Linked DNA regions of Homo sapiens. The protein of the gene in region 1 purifies or fractionates together with the protein of each later gene. This does not show direct contact. Each region holds a gene or a part of one and is shown on either strand. Other genes may lie near its edges.

Region 1 (3,500 bases):
AGGGAGGTGGGGCCACAGCCTCGGCATGGGGGTTCCTGCTCCAGCTCCTGCCTTCCTCCTCCTCCCTGCACCCCTCACCCTCGTGTCCACCGCGGGACCCGCCCTCTGCTGTGGGCCCCGACATCCCTGAATGACACCATGCAGCCCCGCCCATGGGCCCTCGTCTGGACTGCCTCTTTCCAGACCCATCCCCCATAGCCACATGACTCACTTCTCCCCTGTCTTCGCGGCTTTTTAGGTCTTCCCTGAAATTCCAGCCTCCGCTCCTGACATTTCACGCCTCCCTTCGCTACTCTATGTTTTCCTCCTCAGCACGCCTCATGCACAATTGGTGTTTCCCTTCCTCCCTGCCTGGCTCCCCAGCTAGAATAGAAGCTCCCTGAACTTATATTTGGGGCTTCATTTGTTTCCTTCACTACCCTCAGTCAGTATTTGCATCGCGTCTTGTCTTCATGGGATGGGGTCGGGGTGGACACTGGAAAGGTGTGGCCGGGACACAGGGTTGAGACTGGTGGACAGGTAGAGTTCCCAGCCTCAGGACCTGGGGAGGCAGGATCAGGCCTGTGATAGCCCTGGCTGTTTGTTTGTTTTGAGACAGAGTCTCACTCCATTGCCCAGTCTGGAGTGCAGTGGCATGATCTTGGCTCACTGCAACCTCCACCTCCTGGGTTCAAGCTATTCTCCTGCCTCAGCCTCCCGAGCAGCTGGGATTACAGGCGTGTGCCACCACGCCTGGGTAATTTTTGTATTTTTAATAGAGACTGGGTTTCACCATGTTGGCCAGACTGGTCTCGAACTCCTGACGTCAGGTGATCCACCCACCTCGGCCTCCCAAAGTGTTGGGATTACAGGCGTGAGCCACCGCACCTGGCCTCAAATGATTTTCTTGCTTCGGTCTCCCAAAATGCTGGGATTACAGGCATAAGCCATCGCACCTGGACATATTTTTGTTTTTAAAATCATACATATATTTTTCATGCATGATTTTTCTTTCTTTTTTTTTTTTTGAGATGGAGTCTCACTCTATTGCCCAGGCTGGAGTGCAGTGGCACGATCTCAGCTCACTGCAACCTCCACCTCCTGGGTTCAACCGATTCTCGTGCCTCAGCCTCCTGAGTAGCTGGGATTACAGGCATGCGCCACCACACCTGGCTAATTTTTGTGTTTTTAGTAGAGATGGGGTTTCACCATGTTGGCCAGGCTGATCTTGAACTCCTGACCTCAAGTGATCCACCTGTCTCAGCTTCCCAAAGTGCTGGGATTACAGGCATGAGCCAGCGTGCCCGCCCCACCTTTCCCTGGCTGTTTTTGATTATAGATGGACTGGAAAAGCCATCTTGATGTCAAGCGCTCTGTCTCATTGGTTGGTTGAACACCCTGGTGATATTGGCACCTAGCTTATTTCTTATCACTTTTTCTGCTTACTTAACTCTCCCTTGACTTGCGCCCTCTGGCTGGAGTCCTGTTGAGACTGTCACTTCCTCTGTTTAACTCCTCGTGGACATGACTACCTGCTCCACTCACTCAGCCTTTGTTGATGTTCCCACTTCCCCTGTTTATTTAACTCCTCGTTGACACGATCACTTCCTCCATTTCCTTGATTCTTCTAAGTCTATAAAGTTATGGGAGGCTCCGAATTGGCTCCTGTAGTGTGGTGAGGCGTGTGGTCTGCTGACAGGTCGTAGCCTTTCCTCCTTTCTGGCTTCTCCTTTATGTACGTCTCATGACCTCAACACAAGTGGTCCAGAGAGGACAAGCAATGCCCATGAGGTCGCACAGCACATCGGGGTGTAGCACAGACATATATCAGGCCTGTGCGGCCACAAGTGGTCCATGGGGTTCCTGAGATGCTGGCATTGTGGGAGCCACCCTAAATTGTCCTCTGTTGTCTCCCTGCAGTCCTTGGATAGCTGGGGCACCTCTGAAGATGCTGACGCTCCTTCTAAGCGACACTCAACCTCTGACCTCTCAGATGCGACCTTCAGCGATATCAGGAGAGAAGGCTGGTTGTATTATAAGCAGATTCTCACCAAGAAGGGGAAGGTAAGATGGGTGGAGGAATGAGGTGGAAGCTGGCTCCAGCAGAACCCTCCAGCCTCTCCTAGGCCTACCCTGACAGCCTCTGGAGCCAGAGAGAACCAGTGTAGGTTGTTGCATGAAGGATGGAGGTTAGATGCTAGGAAGAACTTCCTGGCAGGGGGATTTAAAGAACTTATGTAAAAGAAGTTAACAAGAGAGGTGGATTTTGCTGTGGGATGGATCTGATCGAGTCGTGCTTGGAATATTCTGGCAAAACCATCCCACACGGGCCCTGGCTTGACAGGCCATCCTGAAGATGGCCGCTGGGGCTCATGGAAAACAAGGAGCAAGGCCGGGGTGATTTCCGTAGGAGAGCTAAGGCCCAAGAAGACGCAGGCAAGCCAGCAAAGGGCTTAGTGTTCATCCTAAGGGCAACCAAAAGCTCTCGGGGGCTCTTGCCAAGGGAGTTACAGCTTTAAAATATTCATTTGGCTCCCTGGGAGTGAGTTAGGGAGGGGCCATGCTGGAGGCAAGAAGACCAATTAGGAGCCACCGTGGAGATCCAGATGAGAGGCGAAGGGGGCTTCGGGGAGTAGTTGGGGAGGGCCTGGGAGGGAACCAGCAGGACTCTGAGAGGAGAAGGGCAGGGCCCCTGGATCCATGGGGTGCAAATCCTGGCCCCAGGCTGCGCTGTGGGCTGGAGAAGTGGGAGGAGAGACCACTGCCTTCCCTCCTGGCGATTAGGATGAACCCGGGTTTGACTCTTGACTGCATCACCCATTGCTCTGAGAGCCTGGGTGACTCACCTGGCCATGACTCAGTGTCCTCTCCTGTAAATGGAGCTAACAGTAATCCCTAGCTCATAAGCCTATTGCTAAGGATTAAATGAGATGATCTAAGTAAAGGGTTTACCCAGTGCCCGGCACTTGAAGCTGCTGTACTTCTGCTTACTGCTATTTGTTTTCTTTTTTTGAGACGGAGTCTCGCTCTGTTGCCCAGGCTGGAGTGCAGTGGCGCGATCTCGGCTCACTACAACCTCCACCTCCTGGGTTCAAGCAATTCTCCAGCCTCAGCCTCCTGGGTAGCTGGGACTACAGGCACTCACCACCAAACCCGGCTAATTTTTTTTTTTTTTTTTTTTGTATTTTTTTAGTAGAGACGGAGTTTCACCATGTTGGTCAGGCTGGTCTCGAACTCCTGACCTCAAATTATGTGTCTGCCTCGGCCTCCCAAAGTGCTGGGATTACAGGCGTGAGCCACCGTGCCCAGCCCGCTTACTGCTATTTGAATTTTCTACCCTGCCTTCTGGGGTCTTGGGGGTCCCTGGAAAGAACATAAGCTTTGAAGCAGACAGACTTTGAGTTCCTATCCGGCCACATATCAAGCACGTGGCTTTGGGCACCCCACTTACCTTCCCTGAGCCTCACTTTCTGATCTGTACGATGGGAACAATGTTATCCTACCCCAAGGGCTGCTGTGGA
Region 2 (3,500 bases), on another chromosome or scaffold:
TCAAGTGATCCACCTGCCTTGGCCTCCCAAAGTGCTGGGATTGTAGATGTGAGCCACTGCGTCCAGCCTACTTGCTTAATTTTTAAACATTCTAAAGATTGTTTGTTTGTTTTTTGAGATAGGGTCCTGCTCTGTCTCCCAGACTGGAATGCAGTGGTGTGATCATGGCTCACTGCAGCCTCTACCTCCTGAGCTCAGGCCATCCTCCCAATTAGCTGAGATCACAAGCAAGCACCACCAGCTAGTTTTGTAGGGACGGGGTTTCGCCATGTTGCCAAGGCTGGTCTGGAACTCCTGGGCTCAAGTGATCCACCCACCTTGGCCTCCCAAAGTGCTGGGATTATAGGCATGAGCCACAGTGCCCGGCCTATTCTGGAATTTTTAGTTAAATCAGGAACACATGAAAAAGAAGCATAAATATTGAAATTAGCATTATTCATGAAGAATGAGAACTAATAAGGAACTTAAATTAGGCACAGGCAAAATGTAAATTAAATATACAAAAGTCAATAGTTCTGGCCGGGCACGATGGCTCATGCCTGTAATCCCAGCACTTTGGGAGGCCAAGGCAGGCGGATCGCCTGAGGTCAGGGGTTCGAGACCAGCCTGGCCAACCAACATGGTGAAACCCCATCTCTACTAAAAATACAAAAATTAGCCGGGCATGGTGGCGTGCACCTGTAATCCCAGCTACTCAGGAGGCTGAGGTGGGAGAACCCGGGAGGCAGAGGTTGCAGTGAGCCGAGATCACGCTACTGCACTCCAGCTTGGGCGACAGAGCGAGACTCCATCTTAAAAAAAAAAAAAATTTAATAGTCCTAAAGCCTAATCCATTGATTATGTAATGAGGAGAAAAGATGATTACAGTAATGCAAAATAGAAATTGTATACAAAATATATAATAAGAAATAAGTTGGTCATACTAAGAAATATGACCAACTTCTATGATAAATAATGTAAGACAGGGACATAAAAGTTGCATGTAATGGAAAAAACATATCTTATTGCTAGATAGAAGAACAAGAACAGTACCAGCACTTAGGGAGGCAAAGCCAGGATGATCACTTGAGCCCACGAGTTTGAGACCAGCCTGAGCAACGTAGTGAAACTTCATCTCTACCAAAAAATTTTAAAAATAAGCAGAGTATGATGGTGGACACCTGTGGTCCTAGCTACTCAAGAGGCTGAGACAGGAGGATCACTTGAGCCCAGGAGGCCGAGGCTGCAGTGAGCCCTAACTGCACTACCTCACTCCAGCCTGGGCGACAGAACCAAGACCCTGTCCCCCCCCAAAAAAAAAAGATGTTGGGAAGACTTTACTCCTCATAGTTAACAAATTTATTGCAAATTAATTAAAAATCAATGCAAATAGAATAGTAGGAGAACTTAGTAAAACAGTTTATCTTTAAAATAAACATGGAAGTGTGGCTGGACATATTTGAAAAATAAAAGTAATGGGTTTACTGACATGATAATAAAATGTAGCAATGCAGGAAAAAAGAAAGAGATGAATAGAAAGCAATAGGCAGGCAGAAACAGATCCGAGTATAAATAAGAATTTATCCTGGGTGCAGTGGTTCATGCCTGAAACCCTAACATTTTGCGAGTTCAAGATGGAAGCCAGGGATTTGAGACTAGCCTGGGCAACATACCAGGACCCTGTCTCTAAAAAAATTAAAAATTAGTTGGGCGTGATGTGTGCGCCTATCAGCTTGAGAGGCTGAAGCTAGAGGATTGCTTGAGCCCAGGAGGTTAAGGTGGCAGCAAGCTGTGATTGCGGCCCTGCACACTAGCCTAGGCAACAGAGCAAGAATTCATCTTAAAAGAATTTAGTAGATGATAAAGGTATTATTTTAAATTAGTGGAGAGAAGGCTGTCTGTTCCAATTAATAATGTTGCCTGATCATTTGGAGAAAGTCACTCTAGATTCTTTCCCTCATACTGAGCACCAAAAAATATATAAATTTTAAATAGATTAAAATGTTAAAAATTTTGAAGTATGTGTTTATTAAAAGAAAGAGGTGTATTTACATAAAGTTATGACAAATGACAAGTCCTAAGAGTTTGCATTTAAGTTTTATCAACTAAAATTGCTGAATTTCACAAAATTAAAATTCCTAGAATTTTAAGTGTGATAAGATTGTGAAGATAGCTCAAGGGAGTGTGTCTATAATATGCAGAAATCACTTCTGGATTTATTCCTAATAATGTATCCAGTATCACAGTATCACCTGTATTTCCCTGTTTATAACAAAACTGGCATCATGATGATTAGTAGGCCTTAATAGTGAAAAGGCTTTTTAAGTACACAACAAATGTTTCTGTACTTGCTCCGATTGCCCCATTGCTTGTACTTCTGTAGTACTTGTGAGCCATAGGATCTTTTCTCAAAAGCCTTGATAAAGAAGTTTTATAAACTTATAAGATGATTTAATGTAGTACCATAAAATTAACTGTAGCAGTAGGCTTTTTCAGGAAGACATGTGAAATAAAAAAAATTAGCAAGGTGTGGTAGCGCACATCTATAGTCCTAGCTACTCAAGAGGCTGAGGCAGGAAGATCATTGGGTCCCAGGAGTTAGAAGTTGCAGCGAGCTGTGATTGCGCCACTGCACTCCAGCCAGAGCAACAGAACAAGACCCTATCCTGTCCCTAAAAAACAAAAAACAAAATGTGTTTTATAAGTGATTATAAAATGTTTTTTTCATAGGCCAAAACTTACATAAACCATGATTTCCCATTATAATCCAGTGGAAAAATTGTAATGCTTCTATTAGTGGTAACTTAATTTTGAAATGTTAAGTAGATTGTGCCTGTGTCGGTTTCTGGGTTTTGATAAATGATCATTTATTTGGCTAACTTTGCCATTAATGGCTGAAATGGTATTGCACATTTGTAAGTGCATACTTTAGATAATCATAAATTGGGGAAATATTACTAATAAATTATCCCTGAATCATCTAGGTACATAATAATGCATTGTCAGCACTCACCAGTTGTTTGACACCTGCAAATATGCACAGATGGACAGTAACATTTGCAGCATATTTGGGGGATTTTTTTACGTGAAATGAGCATTTTTTTTAAGCAAAACATTATATTTTGGAATAATTATGAGATGTGAGTGCCTAAGCAGAGATGTACAGCAAACATTATCAGGACAGAAAGCATGATGGGAGCACCCGATGTTACATTCTTCAGTTCATGCTGTGACCAGGCGACCTCATAAAAGGAAAAATATAATGTATAAGTACAAACCCCATTTTTTGTTTTGGCTCTTTTATATTTGTATTTTTTGAGACAGAGTCTAGTTTTGTCACCCAGGCTGGATGCAGTGGACCGATCTCGGCTCACTACAACCTCTGCCTCCCAGGCTCAAGCAATCCACCCACTTCAGCCCCCTGAGTAGCTGGGGTTACAGGCATGTGCCACCACACCTGGCTAATTTTTGTATTTTTTTTGTAGAGACAGGCTTTCGCCATGTTGTTCAGGCTGGTCTCG
Region 3 (3,500 bases), on another chromosome or scaffold:
AGTAGTTCTATTTTAGTGATACTAAGTTTGAAGTAAACTGATTTTTATTAGGCAATTAGAAACAAAGGTCAAGAACTTAAAAGAGATTCAGCCTTGAGAGATAACTGAGATCATCTACGTACAGATACTAGATGGAATCATGAAAAGTATTAGAGGAGATGAAACCACTTAGTGTGCAGAGAAGGAAGAGAAGAGACAGAACAGAACCATGAAGAAAATTCAAGGTTTAAAAGAAAAAAGCCAGTGAAGCAGAATTTGTTAAAGATGCAAAAACACTTCTAGAAGAAAACATTTCAGAGAAACTCAAAGGGAAAAATACTAAAATATAAAAATGCACAGTTCTGACAGTGAATACATGGAGATTAACAATGTAAATAAAGGAAATCAAATTTAAAGCTCACACTCAGAGTGACCTGGATTAATTCCTGCCTGGGTTTGTTAACTACAAATGGCATAAACTCTAGTTAGACATATAAAAATCACATTAGCTCCCTGTCTTAAGTCACTCTTCTGAGATGAGAGTTCCCAATAATGAATAACTTTGTAGAGTATCTTATCTTCTAGCTTTCCAAGATTTTCTTTAATAAAAGTAAGGTGGAAGGTAACAGTAAAAATATACTTTCTTCAGTTAGATTTAATAAGCTGACACTGTCTCCTTAGATACAATATACTTCCCTATTCCCTCCATCATTAAAGAAAAATTCCTTTACATAAAGATGGTTAACATTTATTAGGCAGTTAGAACCCAAATTGATTTATAAATATAGTTAGCAATTACATTGTAAACTTCAGTGTCAAATCACACTAGTATATATTTAAAATAAAAATCAATTTGGGGGAGGTAATATATCATAAAAGAAATGCTACACTTGGAATGGGAAGAAAACAGTTACAGCACAGATTACTACTAACTTTCTGTGACCCACAGAATAAAAATTTATCAAAAAATAAGGTCCTAACTCATTAGCAAAGCCTGATGGAGTCCTTCTTTTCCAGCCTTGTCTACCACTGTAATAGCTTCGATAACTTTCTTTCCCTCTATCTTCAGTCTCTTCTTTTCATGGGAATTTTAATTTTATTAATTTATTTTTATTTTTTTGAGATAGGGTCTTGCTCTGTTACACAGGCTGTACTACAGTGGCACCAACACAGCTCACTGCAGCCTCAACCTCCTGGGCTCAAGCACTCCTCCTGCCTCAGTCTCCCATATAGCTGGGACCAAAGGCATGTACCACCATGCCCAGCTAATTTTTGATATTTGTAGAGATAGGGTTTCACTTTATTGTCCAGGCTGGTCTCCTAGGCTCAAGAAGTCTTCTTGCCTTGTCCTCCCAAAGTGCTGAGATTATAGGCGTAAGCCACTGTGCCTGGCCAGCTTTTCTGTTTAACTCTAAAGACTGCACAGTGCTAAGTGCTATTTGAATGATTCTGCATTTACTCATAAATGACTTATTTTTGAAACACTATTAAATGCATTAGCAAAGGAGCTATGTGGAAACTTTATTGGCTTATTTAAGGGAAGAGAGGAAGTCTGTGGATCTTGAGTTGGAAATTTGATCGTAGTACTAACTTATCCAACTGCTTCTCTTTTCTTCTCTGCCTACCCCTCCCTTATAATACAAAAATTCCTTTTTAGACATAATAGAACCCTGGTTCATCTTCATTGAGATTCTGAGTTATGATGACAATATCTGTGTATAAAATAGCTTAAGTTACTAGTACAACCTGTAATTACTTCATATTCTAAATCCTGTTTCCTGATATTTTCATGGATCCTGAACAAACCCCCTCATGAAAGAAACAGTGAAAGAAATGTGGATGTAATCACTGGCCTGCTCAGATGTGTCAAGATGGGTGTTTACTTCACACCGTTCTCATGTATACATGGAAATCTCTGAGCCTGTGTAATGTCAGTAATGCCAACTAAAGAGTCTTAGATGCTTCAATTCTAAGGGGCATCCTGTGACCTCAAATCTAAAGGAAGCTCTGGTACAATTACAGTTGGTTTGTGCCTCTTATCACAAAAAAAGACATTGTCTTTTTAAACATTTCAATGTAGCCTGGTGTTTTTCCTATTCTGCCATCAAGAATGAATAGTAAATGGAAAAGTTACATAAGAGACTGACACACATCCTATTCTGGTTTTACGAGCTGTTGTTCTGACCTTAATACAATGTCAATAGTAAATAAGGTGGCATAACAGTAGAGAAAATGTATAACAGTAAAGCTATAGCTACAGAAGTTGTCAAATTGTGGCATTATGATTTGAAAATATCGGGACATTTCACAAAAAAATAGTAGATACTAAATTTCATCTGCTGTTTACTAGGGTAAAAAGTTCAAATTAGTGACAATAGTGGAAATATTTTTATTTTGAAAATAAAGCTTATTCTTATTTGTTTAAAATATTATTAGCACATATTCACTTTAACCTTATGTTTACATTTTTTTAATGACACAATCAAATGTCAGGATTCAAAGTTTAGATTCATTAGAATCTAAAAAACGTATTGGCTATTAAAAATCTCTTAATCATTTAAATTGCTATAGTTTAAAATTTTTTCAAAGCATTTTTATATACATACCTCTTCTGAACAGCTACCTGAGAACTGTATTAGAAAGAAGAAAATAAAAATCTTAGAATTTCAAATAAGTCAAAACTACTAAAGTTCTTCTGGGCAAGTTTTAAGATTAGTTTTGTTGTATGCTGTATAATTGGAAGGCACTTAATTTAAACAAAATGTAATTGCTAACTATATGTCAGTTTGGGTTCCAACTGCCTAATAAATAACTGTTAACTAACCTTATGTAAGGGAATTTGCTCTTTAATGATGAAAAGTAATAGGGAAATATATTACATCTGGGGAGATGATGTCATCTTCACATTGTTTGACTTTAACATTAGAAAGAGGCTAAAGGTTCTCTGTACTCACCCCCTTATAAAGTTAAATCCATGTGCACAGACCAAGAGGTTTCCATAGGCATCGACTTTCAAAAGATTTCCATACAGTGTGTCAAAGACAAGTCCCCTATGTGAAAATGAAGACATTATTGATAATGCAAAGTAATACAGGCAATAATTTTATGTAGTAGTATTTAATCATCATGAACCAACCTCATTTAATTCAAGCTTTGTACCAACTCAAAGTATGTCCTAATATAGCTAAAGTGAGTAAAATCTTAAAAACTAATTCTAAAGCAACTAAAAAATATTGACTCCGTCCAGACAGAAAATCATAATTGTTTTCTGTAAGGAATAAGTGCTTAATCAAACAAGGTATAAAAAACATTCTTCTTACTACACAGCTGGTACCATTCTAAAACATAGTCTTTTTTCTTGGACAACTGAGAAGGCTTATATTTTTCTCCATTAGATGCTGTATGTGGGATATATATGATAGCATCTCAAACATCATTTTCTTAATCTTAAATATTCCCTATCAAATCCAGAAATGGAAACTGCCAAGCTTCTATCATGTTAAGTGTATTAGAGAAACACG
Region 4 (4,281 bases), on another chromosome or scaffold:
CCTCTAGTCCCAGCTACTCCGGAGACTGAGGCAGGAGAATGTTGTGAACCCGGGAGGCGGGCTTGCAGCGAGCCGACATCGCGCCACTGCACTCCAGCCTGGGCTACAGAGCAAGACTCCGTCTCAAAAAAAAGAAAAAAGAAAATTAAAATACAGATCTAGATCTGGATTTTGTTAGGTTTTTTTTTTTTTTAACAACCTAAGGTTGTTCAGAAACATCTATTCTATGTATGTGCTTCTTTAGTCTGTAATTTCTAGGCAGATTAGTTGCACCCTGTCTAGACTCCTTTCAGAAAAATACTAACAATATGTTTTTCTCTGTCTTGGGCTCCACATGGGTGAATTACAGGAAAGCTTAACAGGTACTCAGAGCAACATTTTTTCCTACTTCATGAAGGGCCTAAATGCGAACTCTTAAGTATTTCTCGTTTGCTTTTGTTCTTTTCCCAGGTTTACCTAATCTGTAAGTGTAAGATGCAGTCGATGAAAAGTACTATGGGAATTCTTGAGCAAATCAGACCATTCAAAAGGAAACCACTTCACGTAATGGTGCATAAGGAAGCTAGACTCACCAAAATAACCCTGTTAGGTAAGCCGGATACACCATGGAATACGGCAATCCTCTGTTTAATTTGCAAACCCTTTGGCGGGGAGGAGGAAAGGATGGAAAAATTTGGGTGAAGGCTTTATATGACTAGTCAAACAAACGGTGAGTCATTGAAATTTTCCAGTTAACAATCCCTTCTGCCTGGGCAGAGCCTGGGCCCCAGCGCTTTATGAGCCACACTGCAGTTTTAAGCCGGAATATCTCACGGTTTTATTGTTTCTTCCACGAAATGATTACATAAAATGAAATCAGCTTTGCAATCTGCACCGGCTTTGAAATGAAGGGCAAAATCTGGCTGGGGGTGAGGAGAAAGAAGGTGGAGAGAGAATAAGGTACGGAGACTGTGAGGCAGAGAACGCAGGAAAGGTGGTGAAAAGAGAGTACAAGAATTTTCGGGAGCTGAGTGTATTTTTCTTCCCCATGTTATAGATGCTGTCCGTTTTCCCCCAGCCTGTGTCCAGCAGGCCAGAGTGGACCCCTCCTATGGGCTAAAATACTCTCGGTCTTCGGCCCAGCACAGAGCTGCACCAACCAGGGCCTGCCGCTGCCCCCCCACCAGGTGACAGGTGGGGCCGCCGAGCGGCCACCAGACCTCCGCCTCCTCGCGTTGCCTGCCGGGAGCCGGAGCCGCTTCCGGTTGCGCCCTGTCCCTGAACTTCGACTCCCGTCGGCCCCCGGGAAAACCGCAGCGGGGTAGCGCGGGCGCTGCCGGAACTTGTAGTTCCACCTCCCGCCGCGCTAAATAGCCGGAAACGGGGGCGGCCAGAACAGAGAACTACCGAGGCGAAGGTACGGGTGGCGGCGAGGGGTCAATCCGCGCCGGGGGTGGGGTTGGCTGTGAGGCCGTCGGAGGTGGTTGGGTGGGAGGAGATCCGCTCACACACACGAGGAGGAGGGTTGAGCTGCCGCCGCCGCCGCCTCTGTCGTCGTCGCGAGTGTGGAGTCGGGACTGGAGCTGCTGCCGCGGCGACGCCGGGGATCTTTGTCGCTAGCTCCCGGCCCTTCTGCCCCGCCGCCTTCCCTCAGTCAGCGTTGCCCACTCCTCTCCGGCCGGGCGCCCCTGCCTCCATTTCCCGCTCTCTGTCCACCACACACACGGCCCCCCCGATCATGGATCCGGGCAGTGGCGGCGGCGGCGGCGGCGGCGGCGGCGGCGGGAGCAGCAGCGGCAGCAGCAGCAGCGACTCGGCGCCTGACTGCTGGGACCAGGCGGACATGGAAGCCCCCGGGCCGGGCCCTTGCGGCGGCGGCGGCTCCCTGGCGGCGGCGGCCGAGGCCCAGCGGGAGAACCTCAGCGCGGCCTTCAGCCGGCAACTCAACGTCAACGCCAAGCCCTTCGTGCCCAACGTCCACGCCGCCGAGTTCGTGCCGTCCTTCCTGCGGGGCCCGGCAGCGCCGCCACCCCCAGTTGGCGGCGCCGCCAATAACCACGGAGCCGGCAGCGGCGCGGGAGGCCGTGCGGGTAAAGGCCCGGGACGCGGGAGGAAGTCCGGCCGGGCGCCGGAGCCCACATGGCGTAGGGGTGCGGTCCGGGGGCGCGCGGCCCTGGGGCCCGGTCGGCACGTGGGGCGCTGACAGTGGCGCCGTCTGCCTGGGTGGGGCGCCCCGAGCCCGGGAGCCGGCCTTCGCGGGGCGGCCCGCGGCGGTGGCCGGGCGGGGAGCGGACAGCGGGCAGCGCGCCCAAAGACCCGGACCCGAGTGCCGCCCCTCCGCGCCCCTGCCCTGCTCTGGAGTCCGCAGTTACCCACTTGAGATGGGAACCGTATGGAACGGAGTGGGGGCCGCGGCGGATCCCTGCCACGAGGCGCAGAATGAGGACAGATGGAGCCAGGAGTCATTTGGGTGGGCGTTTAGAGATCCCAGGAGTTGGGGAGGACGAATGGCCGAGTTTTCCTTTCACCTTAGGCCCAGCCGAGAGAGCGTCTTCTGCTGCGTTTTCTACTATTGAAACTGTAATTACGGTTTAAACTGTCCGTGGCCCCCAACCGTCCTGAAGGAATCCCAAGATGCATTGCAGCCTTGTGATCGGGCAGAAACTTGGCTATCAATACCAAGATCTGTTTTACCCTTAGCATTGTGTACGCTTCTAAAGTTTACAAAGTGCCACAAAGTTAGGATTCCTCACTTAATGTGTGATAGGAGACTATATTGATTTGTGTCTTTTTAAAGTGAAGCTTACACTTTTATCCTTTGTCAGCGACACGTTTAGAGAATTTTCATTGCTGTAAAATCGTTGACCTTATTCAGATTGCTTGGAATAACTCACTGTGTTCGTGCATCAGTAGTTCAGTCTATTTCTTCAGACACTTGAGCATTTGTTATAATTTAATAGTTCTCACGTGTCTTTCTGACCGTAGCTAGTAGACATACATTTTCTAATCCATAAAATTTCGAGTTAACTTTGGTTTTTAAACATCTTCCCGTACTTAGGGGTTGCTTAAGTCGTAGGTAGCATGCTTGCAGGTGCTGACGTTGTAGGAATATCCGGTGAGTGAACTTATGTATTCTCATAATGGTGCTTATTTTGTGGTAGGTAGCTTGCTTTCAGGTACTGATTTTGTGGGAATGTCAAATGAGTGAACTTAAGTATTCTCTTCCTAATGGTGCTTATTTTAGGAACTATCAGTGTTTCCTTAAAGAGAAAATGAAAAAGGAAGGAAAAGGCTGAACGTCCTTTCATCATTTAGCCAGGACGTTAGTGGGGTGGGTCATGACATCCAGCGCATTTTAAGTGAGAACATATTGTTGATTTCTCTCTTTAAAGTTCTGTATTGTGGTGGTTCTTAGATAAGTGGACATTATAAAAGTGCTCCAGGAGTTTGGTTTCTACAGAAACTTTTGTCACCGTTTGCTCTTTCGTGGTAAAGGGATAGTGTCTGGAGAAACACTCTGATGACGTATGTACGTCAGCACGGTTGATTTGGTGGTTTTGTTGACAGTGGCATTTATTTGTGTGGGTGGTTGATGTTTTCTTTTGAGGAGATCGAGCACTTTCAGGGTGGTACGGCTCTAGACAATGTTTTCCTCTTGAATAAGGAAGCTTAGCTTGTAATTCTTGACTTACATCAAGCCATTTTGACTGCCTAACCTAGTTCACTTCTCAGCTCCTAAAAGTGCCCATTCCCTACCTTACTTTGCAGATTCCGTTTATCCAGCCATTTTCTTTCTTGGCTCTTCCTCCTTTCTGTGGAGCCACCAGCACCACTCTGACTAGACTCAGGACTCCATTTACAGCCTGTCCAGCGAGTCATCCGGGGATAACCAACCTTGGTCTAGAATGGTCACTGTTGGTGACTAGGTATTACCTCTTATGCGGGCTTTCTCTCTTCCTGATAGTTGCTAATTTGTAGTTACACCTAATCTTTTTCTCTTTGACAGTGCTAGAAATTGGAGATGCGAAAACCTGTAGGGAAGTAGCTGTCAGTAAGAGAATCCGTACAGCATGGTCAACTTTCTTGTTTTTAATCAAAAAACTATTTTGGTGTTACCGACTTTACCAATTGCTTGTACCAAAATGCCAGTTCATGTTTTTAAAAAATTATCCTATGTAGGATGTCTATTTGGAAAAGAACTGATTTTCTAAGTTGAGGTCCAGGGTTATATTGAGACTGTTGGATTGCATGTTCCAGACTATTAAGTCCATAAAAAGCCAGCATCGGAGAACAATCAGTGCT
Region 5 (3,172 bases), on another chromosome or scaffold:
CTCACCCACTCTGCAGGCCACACATTCTTTCCTGACAATGTCCCCTAGGCAAACCCAAGCTTCTTTGATCTCACCTTCTCGGCCGGCCTCTACTCCCCCTGATTCACCCCCTCTGCAGGCCCCTCTTTCCCTTCCTGCCTCACCCCCTCTGCAGACTTCTCTCTCTCCTGCTGTCTCACCCCTAAGCTCACCCCTGACCATACACCCTCTGCAGGCGCTATCTTCTCTGGCCTCCCACTCTCCTCAGGCACCTCTCTCTTCCCTGATCATGCCCCCTCTGGAGACCCAATCTTCCCTAGCCCCACCCTCTCTGCAGACACCTCCTGCTTCCCTGACCACACCCCCTCTGGAGAACCTACCTTCTCTAGCCCCGCCTCCTCTGCAGACAGCTTCTGCTCCCCTGACCACACCCCCTCTGGAGAACCTACCTTCTCTAGCCCCGCCTCCTCTGCAGACAGCTTCTGCTCCCCTGACCACACCCCATCTGGAGACTCCACCTTGTCCAGCCCCATGCCCTCTGCAAGCACCACCTTCGCCATTGACCACGCCCCCTCCGGAGACGCCCTCTTCCATAGCCACGCCTCCTCCACAGGCCCCACCTGCTCTGGCCTCACCCCCTTTGCAGGGCCTGCCCTCTCCCCCTCTGTCTCCTTTGGCCACGCCCCCTCCACAGGCCCCACCTGCCCTGGCCTTGCCTCCTCTGCAGGCCCCTCCCTCTCCCCCTGCCTCACCCCCTCTGTCTCCTTTGGCCACACCCTCTCCACAGGCCCCAAATGCTCTGGCAGTGCACCTTCTGCAGGCCCCTTTCTCTCCCCCTCCCTCACCCCCAGTGCAGGCCCCTTTCTCTCCCCCTGCCTCACCCCCAGTGTCTCCTTCGGCCACGCCCCCTTCACAGGCCCCACCCTCTCTAGCCGCACCTCCTCTGCAGGTCCCACCCTCTCCCCCTGCCTCTCCCCCAATGTCTCCTTCAGCCACGCCCCCTCCACAGGCCCCACCCCCTCTCGCTGCGCCTCCTCTGCAGGTCCCACCCTCTCCCCCTGCCTCTCCCCCAATGTCTCCTTCGGCCACGCCCCCTCCACGGGTCCCACCCCTTCTTGCCGCTCCTCCTCTGCAGGTCCCGCCCTCTCCCCCTGCCTCACTCCCAATGTCTCCTTTGGCTAAGCCCCCTCCACAGGCCCCACCTGCTCTGGCCACACCTCCTCTGCAGGCCCTTCCCTCTCCGCCTGCCTCATTCCCTGGGCAGGCCCCTTTCTCACCCTCTGCCTCACTCCCAATGTCTCCTTTGGCCACGCCTCCTCCACAGGCCCCACCTGTTCTGGCAGCGCCCCTTCTGCAGGTCCCTCCCTCTCCCCCTGCCTCACCCACCCTGCAGGCCCCACGCCGCCCCCCGACCCCGGGTCCGGATACCTCCGTCTCGGGCCCACGGCTGACCCTGGCGTTGGCCCCCGGCCCGCCGCCGCCGCCCTCGCGCAGCCCGTCCAGCACGCTGAGCGGCCCAGACCTGGCCGGCCACAGCAGCAGCGCCACGAGCACGCCAGAGGAGCTGCGTGGCTACGACAGCGGGCCCGAGGGCGGTGCCGCAGCCTCCCCGCCCCCCGACGCAGAGCTCGCCGCTTGCCACCCGGCTGCCTGGAGTCGAGGCCCCGCTCCGCCGCTGGCTTTCCGCGGAGCCCCAGGTAAGGGGCACCCCAGACCCGGCCTGGCTGTGGGCGGGGTCGGAGGCGAGGCTTCGCAGCTCAGGGGCGGGACAGCTGGGTCCGGGGCGGAGCTTAGACAAGGAGGCGGGACCTTGAGGCAGGGGCGGGGCTTATCACCCCCACGGCCCACCTGGCGTCTCTCCCCGCAGGTGCGCCCCTGCCGTGGCCTCCCGCTACCGGACCGGGCTCTGCTGACGGTCTGTGCACCATCTACGAGACTGAAGGGCCCGAGTCGGCGACCCCCGCCCCTGGCGCACTGGATCCGGGGCCCAGTCCCGGCACGAGCGGTGGGAAGGCGGCGGCTGGGGCCGGGGCCGGGGCGTCCTCGCGGAGCCCGAAGCAGGCGCGCCTGGGCGAGCTGCCACTGGGGGCGCTGCAGGCGAGCGTCGTGCAGCACCTGCTGAGCCGGACGCTGCTGCTGGCGGCTGCCGAGGGTGCCGCGGGCGGCAGCGGCGGGGGCCCAGGAGGTGCGGAGGGTGGTGGCGTCACAGGGGGCGCCCGGGCTGCACTCAGCGACGCCGAACTCGGCCGCTGGGCCGAACTACTGTCTCCCCTGGACGAGTCCCGTGCCAGCATCACCTCGGTCACCAGCTTCTCTCCGGACGACGTGGCCTCCCCGCAGGGTGACTGGACCGTGGTGGAGGTGGAGACCTTCCACTGAGCCAGACCACAGCCCCGCCTGCTACACCCCACCCCTGCCTTAGGATCCGCCCCTCCGGGTACGCCGTTTGTTTTAGACCCCGCCTCCACTGCCCTGGAGCCCCGCTGGGTGGATTAGTCTTAGCTCCCTAGAGCCTGAGCCTTTGGCCTCGGAGGCTCGGGACCTACCCACAGCTTTGACCTAGGCCCGCCCCTCGAGCTCCGCCCCTTTGGCCTAGGACACGCCCCGTTTCCCCGAGTCCCGCCCCGTGTGCAGTGTATTGCCCACCCCGCACAGCCTGAGTTTGCAATAAAACTGGGACACTGGGACTTGCACACCTTCGCTGTCACAGAGAGGACTGGGGCTGGGGGCCTCCAGCAGGCTGAGCGGCGCGGGGGGCCAGGCCAGATAAGGCCTTGCTGGCGGCTGTGCTCGAACCGGTTGGAGCTCTGGATAAAGTGCGGTTTTCCTCTTCTGGGAGAGAAGGGGCAGGCCAGGTGGGGCTAGGGCGGGGCCATGCCGAGTCCCGGCCATCTGGTGCCGCGCACCCATCCACGTGTGTGAACTTGGGCTTCTTGGTATCCGACTTCTGGTGGAAACGTTCGGTGCAGGAGGGGCCTGGCAGGGGCTGTGCGCCCGAGTGGATGAGTCAGTGCGTGGCCGAGGTGAAGGAGCGACTGGAACCCTTTTCTATTCTATTCTAATTCTTTTTTTTTTTTTTTTTTTTTTTTTGACGGAGTCTCCCTTTGTCGCCAGGCTGGAGTGCAATGGCGCGATCTCGGCTCACTGCAACCTTCACCTCCCGGGTTCAAGCGATTCTCCTGCCTCAGCCTCC
Region 6 (3,500 bases), on another chromosome or scaffold:
GTTAGGTTCCTTAGGAGCTTCCTTGCCCTTGTTGTCTTTGTTCATGTGGAAGGTGCAACAGCTGCCGTGGCTTATGCATTCGTCTTAGTTGCTGCTTTATGTAGTCTATATTTTGGTAGTTTTATCTTTCTGAGTAACCAAATCATCTGTCACTTACCTATAAATTTTATAGTTATATTTTTTCCCTTTGGATGTGTATTAAATTTAGACGTTTTAGTTTAGTTTTGTTTCTGTTAATCTTCACACCAGGTCTTTTCTGTGCTTTAGGTTGATTCTTCACCACACTGAAACCATTAGGAAAAATCCTTGTGGTTAACAGCAGAGGCTTCAGAGTGTAACCTGTACTCGGGCCTAGAAATTATTTAAAATGGCGACTGATACGTCTCAAGGTGAACTCGTCCATCCTAAGGCACTCCCACTTATAGTAGGAGCTCAGCTGATCCACGCGGACAAGTTAGGTGAGGTAGGGGCTGACACATTCTTGAAGCTCACTCTTGGATCAATCCCTGACTTCAGGCCCTGCTGGGTCCTTCTTGGTACATGTTCCTTCCCTTACTTTGGGGAGTCTAGGTTGTGAATTTGAAACAAAATCAGATTCTTTTCATCTTCCCTTTCCCCTCAAATTCCTGAGAAAACCTCCAACCTTCTAAATTTATAGCAAATCAACTATAATTATGTGTTTCCATTTGAAATTCAAGCTAAAATAACATACTTTAAAAAGTGTATCTTAAAAATCATATTTCACTTCAAAAAAAACTTGTTAAAAGTAATTTGCATCAGATCCTGGAGTCGACTTGAAGAATTCTCCTACATCTGACACCCAGTTAGGCCCTTTGAGAAAGAGAGAAAAGAGAATTTTTTAATGCATGTTTGATTATGGCCATCTCTTTTCTTAGAAGGTAGAAGATAGCACCATGCCGATTCGTCGAACTGTGAATTCTACCCGGGAAACTCCTCCCAAAAGCAAGCTTGCTGAAGGGGAGGAAGAAAAGCCAGGTAAAGTAAAATGGTGACACAGCTTAAAACATCAAAAGTTATACTGCAATTTGGAGTGTCCCATAAATTCCTTTGAACTTAATTGTTTTTTTTTTTTTTTCATGGCTAAGTGTTTTGGGGAAACATTTAGAGAGAATCAGTAGCTATTGGTATGTCATTGCCAGACCATGAGGGCAAAGTAAGGTTTCATCTTCTCTATAAAGGTTTTTGGAAGGTGAAAATGTTATGTTGGAATTAAAAACAAAAATGTTTGGGGATGACAGGAATGGCCAGAGAGTAGCATTCTGGACATAAAGTGTCATGGGGATCAGTGCAGTGTGGGAGAATGGAAAACGTGGGCCTTTAGAATAGACAGTGGAAGGTTCATCCAGAAATCATCTGGAGGCCTTCAGAGAAGCAAATGGTGATCTGTTGATCTATAACAGGTATTGGTAGAGAGAAGATTGGCCAGTCAGTGGTGGGAGCATAACAAATGGAAAGAAACATAGACCCATCAACATGGAGTACTAATGCTCCTTTATGGCATGTATAACCACCTCTTCTCCTTTTCCCGTCTTTATTTTTCTTCTCATGATCTTTTTGGTTTTTTTCCTTATCTTTTCCCTTTTTTCCTTTCTCTCTTGCCTTTTATCTCAGGTTTTTCAGGGATAAGCACACTGTGCTGCCTCTGTTGTGGCTGTTAGAATCAATTATTTGCTGACCAGCATGTATTAGGAATAGAGGGCCGGGCACAGTGGCTCACACCTGTAATCCCAGCACTTTGGGAGGCCAAGGAGGGCAGATCACCTGAGGTCAGGAGTTCGAGACCAGCCTGGCCATCATGGTGAAACCCCATCTCTACTAAAATTATAAACATTATCTGGGCATGGTGGTGCATGCCTGTAATCCCTGCTACTCAGGAGGCTGAGGCACAAGAATTGCTTGAGCCCAGGAGGCAGAGGTTGCAGTGAGCTGAGATCACGCCATTGTATTCCAGCCTGGGCAACAGAGGGAAACTGTCTCCAAAAAAAAGAAAAAAAAAAAAAAGAGGAGTAGAAAATACATGCATCCTTGGTGCATCAGGGCAGACATCAATAACCAGTCAATATACTCTTTTCTGGCTGAGCCTGGATTTTTTCTCTAAATCCTTAGATGAATGCTATAAGCAATTTGGGCACCCTGGCCTAAGGCAGTTAAGAAACACGGGAATCCAAATATTTAAAAAAGTAAACGGGTGCTGGTAAGTTGAAGATAGGTTATCTTGTCCAGCACTGGGATAAGCCACTTGGTGGTCCATCTTAATCCATGTTTAACAGCCAGCTGAAGCCACTAAATCACTAATAACATCAGTTTTCAGAATATATGCCAGAGGGTTCAGATGTAAAGTATTAGAAAACTCAACCAGAAGTTTATGAAGAAACAGTGTCACTTCACAAGTTGTATGTTTGTTTAATCTTCTCTCTATCCCATTTTGTACACAGTATTTTGTACATAGAAATTAGACTTCACTTATTTTAAATTTTGTAAACTCTATGTTTTACACAGAAACACAGTAGTTTAATGAGTTGGAAACAGTCTTATACATAATACATATTCAATATCTGTTGAGTGACTGAACTTTATTAAGCCATAACTCTTGAGCAGTTATTCTTGAGAAGAGAAAATAATGTAAATTTATAAGTCTTACTACCGTAAAACCCCTGAATGATTCTTAGCTTTTCATCTTTTTTAGAATAAGACAAAGTGTAAATAAACATGACTAACTAATAGTAAATTCTTGCCCATGCAGCCATTTAGGTCAAATTGTTGGGTTGAGGGGCAGTAAAAGATATATCATGATGAAAAATACATTTTATTGTGGAAAACCTAAATGTAGTTATTATCTTTATCCCCAGATACCATTGTTATAGTGAAGTTCTATCCATAATACTTTGTCATCCTAAGCATATGGGAAACAATTCTAGAAGCAGAGAATTCCAAAGGAGGATGGAAATCACTCGCTTAGTATAAGTGTTAGAATTGTACTTATGTGATTTGGTTTTAAGAAAGAAGTGGCATTTTAAAATTCTCTTTATAGCTGGGCGCGGTGGCTCACGCCTGTAATCCCAGAATTTTGGGAGGCTGAGGCGGGTGGATCACGAGGTCAGGAGATCGAGACCATCCTGGCTAACACAATGAAACCCTGTCACTACTAAAAATACAAAAAATCAGCTGGGCATGGCGGCACGCACCTGTAGTCCCAGCTACTAGGGAGGCTGAGGCAGGAGAATCGCTTGAACCTGGGGAGGTGGAAGTTGCAGTGAGCCAAGATTGCGCCACAGCACTCTAGCCTGGGAGACAGAGCGAGACTCCGTCTCAAAAAAAAAATAAATAAATAAATAAAATTCTCTTTATGGGAAGGCCACAAAGAAGTCCTCGTCATTATTGCAATAATTAGTTCACATAATTTAAATGATCAAATTCTTCAAGCATATACTTTGGCTTGAAGTATATGCTTGCCACTGGAGTCCTTTTTCTTTCATGTT
Region 7 (3,030 bases), on another chromosome or scaffold:
TTGCCTGATTTGCTTGTCTAAATGCTGTTTTTCCAAAAGTGCAATTTGGAATATGGCCTGAAGAAGTGTTCTATATATTTTCCTTTTCTTTCCTCCCCACCCCCAAAACTCCTTTTCCTTTCTTAAATTTAGCCTTAGTTTTGAGCTGTTCTTTGTTAAGTACAGTTTTTGTTTGGTACACATTTGTCCATGTTTCACAGATGAATATGCATAAGCTTTAGAAACAGAAATATTTATAACAGGTAGATTACAACTTTTTGATACTATCTTTATTTAGCTACAGCTCCTTCTATTCACATCTGGGATGCAATGAACAAGCAGACTTTATCTATCCTAAGATGCTACCATTCAAAGGGAGTATGTTCAGTCAGCTTCAGTGCTACTGGCAAACTATTGCTGTCTGTGGGACTAGACCCAGAACATACTATTACCATTTGGAGATGGCAGGAAGGTAGGATTCTTTTGTGTGTTTGATTTTTAAAAAAACAAGAATACAAAGGTAGTAGGAATTCTGTATTTAATATTTGTCTTAAAGTTGGTGGTTGAAACAATCATTCAGTGGAGGCCTATGCAATATACTGTACACAGTGGTACTGTAGGTATATTTCACTTTAAAAGCCCAGTGGAACTGTAACCTCACAAAACAGATAAATTAATGAAACCATTATTAGCATTATAAATGATTCACTGCTATTTTCTTCCAGCAAGAAACTATGTATTTATTATTAATGATTTGATTGGTTTTGGAGATTCTTATGAAAATTATGTATATTTCTAATGATAATGGCAGATCAGCAGGATAATATTACCTACCACACTTTAGACAAAACATTTACGTTATATAAAGAAAAGTTAATGGAGCGAAGATAAGTGAAAAGGACTCAATACACAAATAATTGTAAATCATGTATTGCTAGGTAGTAGAGCAGGGGCCATTGGCCTCTCTTCTAAGCCTTTGTTTTTTGAACTATGTATTTTACATATTTGTTTGATGCTGTTGATTAGCTTGGTTCTTGTAATAACCTAGATAATTTTGTTGTATCTTGTCAGGTGCCAAAATTGCCAGCAGAGCTGGTCACAATCAACGTATTTTTGTGGCAGAATTCCGACCAGATTCAGATACCCAGTTTGTCTCAGTGGGAGTAAAACATGTGAAGTTCTGGACCCTGGCAGGAAGAGCTCTTCTTAGCAAAAAAGGGCTACTGAGCACACTGGAAGATGCCCGGATGCAGACCATGCTCGCTATTGCATTTGGTGCAGTATGTCTCTTAAAATGCACATAGTGTGACTTTGACTACTTTACATTCTCTTGCCTTAGATCATCAGCCACATGAATGTTGTTGAGATGATACTGTGATCTGCTAATCATTACATGCCCTGGTCAAGCATATATTTCATCTTTCAAAAATCTAGTTCTTTCAGAAATTAGGGAGTGAAAAGAATGTTAATGAGAGGGGGAAAAGGATTTTTTTTTTTTTTTGACACAGTATCTCACTCTGTCGCCTGGGCTGGGGTGCAATGGTGCGATTATAGCTCACTGTAGCCTCCATCTCCCAGGTTCAAGTGATCCTCAGCCTCCTTAGTAGCTGGGACTACAGGGCAGGAACCACCATGCTAGGCTAATTTTTCTTTCATTTTTAGTAGAGACAGGGTTTCGCTATGTTGCCTAGGTGGTCTCAAGCTCCTAAGCTATGTGATCCTCCCATCTTGACCTCCCAAAGTGCTGGGTTTACAGGCATGAGCCACCATAATAAGGATTCTGATGAACATTTGATTCCTTGGACTACTGTTATACTCAAAAGCCTTCCTTAATCTTCTAATTGTCACCCTAAATATCCTAAAATTTCTGTCTTCCTAGTAGTTCTTCATAGTCCTAAAAATTTGTCAGAGAGAAAGGTAAATCAAGAAACATGATTTTCAAATGATTTAAGGTGGTACTAGGGTTTAGGATTTCCTTTGCTTTTTATCATTTAACACACTGCTTATCATACAGCTGGAAGTGCTCTGGGCCAGTGTCTCTACTTCGAGGGAAGAAGGAGGTAGTGAGACAGAAGGAAATAGCACAATTCCTGGCCCTGACAGAAGGGTGTTCAGGAGACCTGCTCTCCTCTCACTTTATTCCATCTCATCTGGACCTGTGGCTTCCAATCCACATCTCTTTCCTTTAATATCCTGCATTGGCTAGGCTGTATAAATCCTTTGGTGCATCGAAAAACTAAGTGCATTTTTTGTTTTTGTGATTATGCAATACTTATAGGAAAAGTTATAATTTTAGAATATTTAAGTACACTTACATTTTTGAGAAAAAGACTATTGAAATGTTTGTGCCATGTCAAATTTCAGTTGAACATTTTGGGTATTCTTAATATAAGACCAGGCCAGGCACCGTGGCTCAGGCCGGGCACAGTGGCTCACACCTATAATCCCAGCACTTAGGGAGGCCAAGGCGGGAAGATCACCTGAAGTCAGGAGTTCAAGACCAGCCTGGCTAACAAGGTGAAACTCTGTCTCTACTAAAAATACAAAAATTAGCCGGGCGTGGTGGCTGGCGCTTGTAATCCCAGCTACTTGGGAGGCTGAGACAGGAGAATCACTTGAACCTGGGAAGCAGAGGTTGTGGTGAGCTGAGATCGCACCATTGCACTCCAGCCTGGGCAACAAAGAGCGAAACTCCGTCTCAAAAAAATAAAAAATAAACCCTAGAATTATAGTATGTTAGAATTGGAAGGGAAGAATTGTCTAAGGTTATTCTAGCTAATAAGCAACAGACTTGGAAAGGAAAAGGTCCTGACAAAGCTAAGCCTCCCGTTCAGGTTTCCTGACTCGTGAATTCAGTGCTGCTGCCACTACACGATGCATGCTCTTTGTATCAAGGGTGAGACAGCATTACACATACATAGAAAATTATCTATTTAAACTCTATTTGAACTTTTGATGAGTTTGTCTCCCCCTCCCCCACTCCTTTTCAGAATAACTTGACGTTTACAGGTACCATCAGTGGTGATGTCTGTGTGTGGAAAGATCACATAT

The links.
Region 2: the proteins of ARHGAP23 (region 1) and LSM14A purify together in Homo sapiens (affinity purification with mass spectrometry; one large-scale study listed by BioGRID and IntAct). This does not show direct contact.
Region 3: the proteins of ARHGAP23 (region 1) and NT5C2 purify together in Homo sapiens (affinity purification with mass spectrometry; one large-scale study listed by BioGRID and IntAct). This does not show direct contact.
Region 4: the proteins of ARHGAP23 (region 1) and GSPT1 purify together in Homo sapiens (affinity purification with mass spectrometry; one large-scale study listed by BioGRID and IntAct). This does not show direct contact.
Region 5: the proteins of ARHGAP23 (region 1) and PRR36 purify together in Homo sapiens (affinity purification with mass spectrometry, with the first as the bait; one large-scale study listed by BioGRID). This does not show direct contact.
Region 6: the proteins of ARHGAP23 (region 1) and HP1BP3 purify together in Homo sapiens (affinity purification with mass spectrometry; one large-scale study listed by BioGRID and IntAct). This does not show direct contact.
Region 7: the proteins of ARHGAP23 (region 1) and ZC3H14 purify together in Homo sapiens (affinity purification with mass spectrometry, with the first as the bait; one large-scale study listed by BioGRID). This does not show direct contact.

Annotation. Positions count from the first base shown.
Region 1 is NC_000017.11:38,469,964-38,473,463, forward strand, and holds part of ARHGAP23 (rho GTPase-activating protein 23), read left to right. Parts: intron 1-1,899; coding exon 1,900-2,043; intron 2,044-3,500.
Region 2 is NC_000019.10:34,210,504-34,214,003, forward strand, and holds part of LSM14A (protein LSM14 homolog A), read left to right. Parts: intron 1-3,500. UniProt on the Homo sapiens protein: Essential for formation of P-bodies, cytoplasmic structures that provide storage sites for translationally inactive mRNAs and protect them from degradation. Acts as a repressor of mRNA translation. May play a role in mitotic spindle assembly.
Region 3 is NC_000010.11:103,102,773-103,106,272, forward strand, and holds part of NT5C2 (cytosolic purine 5'-nucleotidase), read right to left. Parts: intron 3,030-3,500; coding exon 2,934-3,029; intron 2,610-2,933; coding exon of another isoform or gene 2,586-2,609; intron 1-2,585. UniProt on the Homo sapiens protein: Broad specificity cytosolic 5'-nucleotidase that catalyzes the dephosphorylation of 6-hydroxypurine nucleoside 5'-monophosphates.
Region 4 is NC_000016.10:11,913,157-11,917,437, reverse strand, and holds the start of GSPT1 (eukaryotic peptide chain release factor GTP-binding subunit ERF3A), read left to right. Parts: upstream 1-1,481; 5' UTR 1,482-1,717; coding exon 1,718-2,069; intron 2,070-2,225; exon of another isoform or gene 2,226-2,418; coding exon of another isoform or gene 2,419-2,449; exon of another isoform or gene 2,450-3,060; coding exon of another isoform or gene 3,061-3,094; intron 3,095-4,281. UniProt on the Homo sapiens protein: GTPase component of the eRF1-eRF3-GTP ternary complex, a ternary complex that mediates translation termination in response to the termination codons UAA, UAG and UGA.
Region 5 is NC_000019.10:7,868,219-7,871,390, reverse strand, and holds the end of PRR36 (proline-rich protein 36), read left to right. Parts: coding exon 1-1,676; intron 1,677-1,846; coding exon 1,847-2,358; 3' UTR 2,359-2,672; downstream 2,673-3,172.
Region 6 is NC_000001.11:20,777,308-20,780,807, reverse strand, and holds part of HP1BP3 (heterochromatin protein 1-binding protein 3), read left to right. Parts: intron 1-267; 5' UTR 268-367; coding exon 368-463; intron 464-896; coding exon 897-996; intron 997-3,500. UniProt on the Homo sapiens protein: Component of heterochromatin that maintains heterochromatin integrity during G1/S progression and regulates the duration of G1 phase to critically influence cell proliferative capacity.
Region 7 is NC_000014.9:88,625,067-88,628,096, reverse strand, and holds the end of ZC3H14 (zinc finger CCCH domain-containing protein 14), read right to left. Parts: coding exon of another isoform or gene 2,970-3,030; 3' UTR 1,260-2,969; coding exon of another isoform or gene 1,051-1,259; 3' UTR 501-1,050; downstream 1-500. Other genes in the region: EML5 (echinoderm microtubule-associated protein-like 5), read left to right, coding at 278-451, 1,051-1,259, 2,970-3,030. UniProt on the Homo sapiens protein: RNA-binding protein involved in the biogenesis of circular RNAs (circRNAs), which are produced by back-splicing circularization of pre-mRNAs.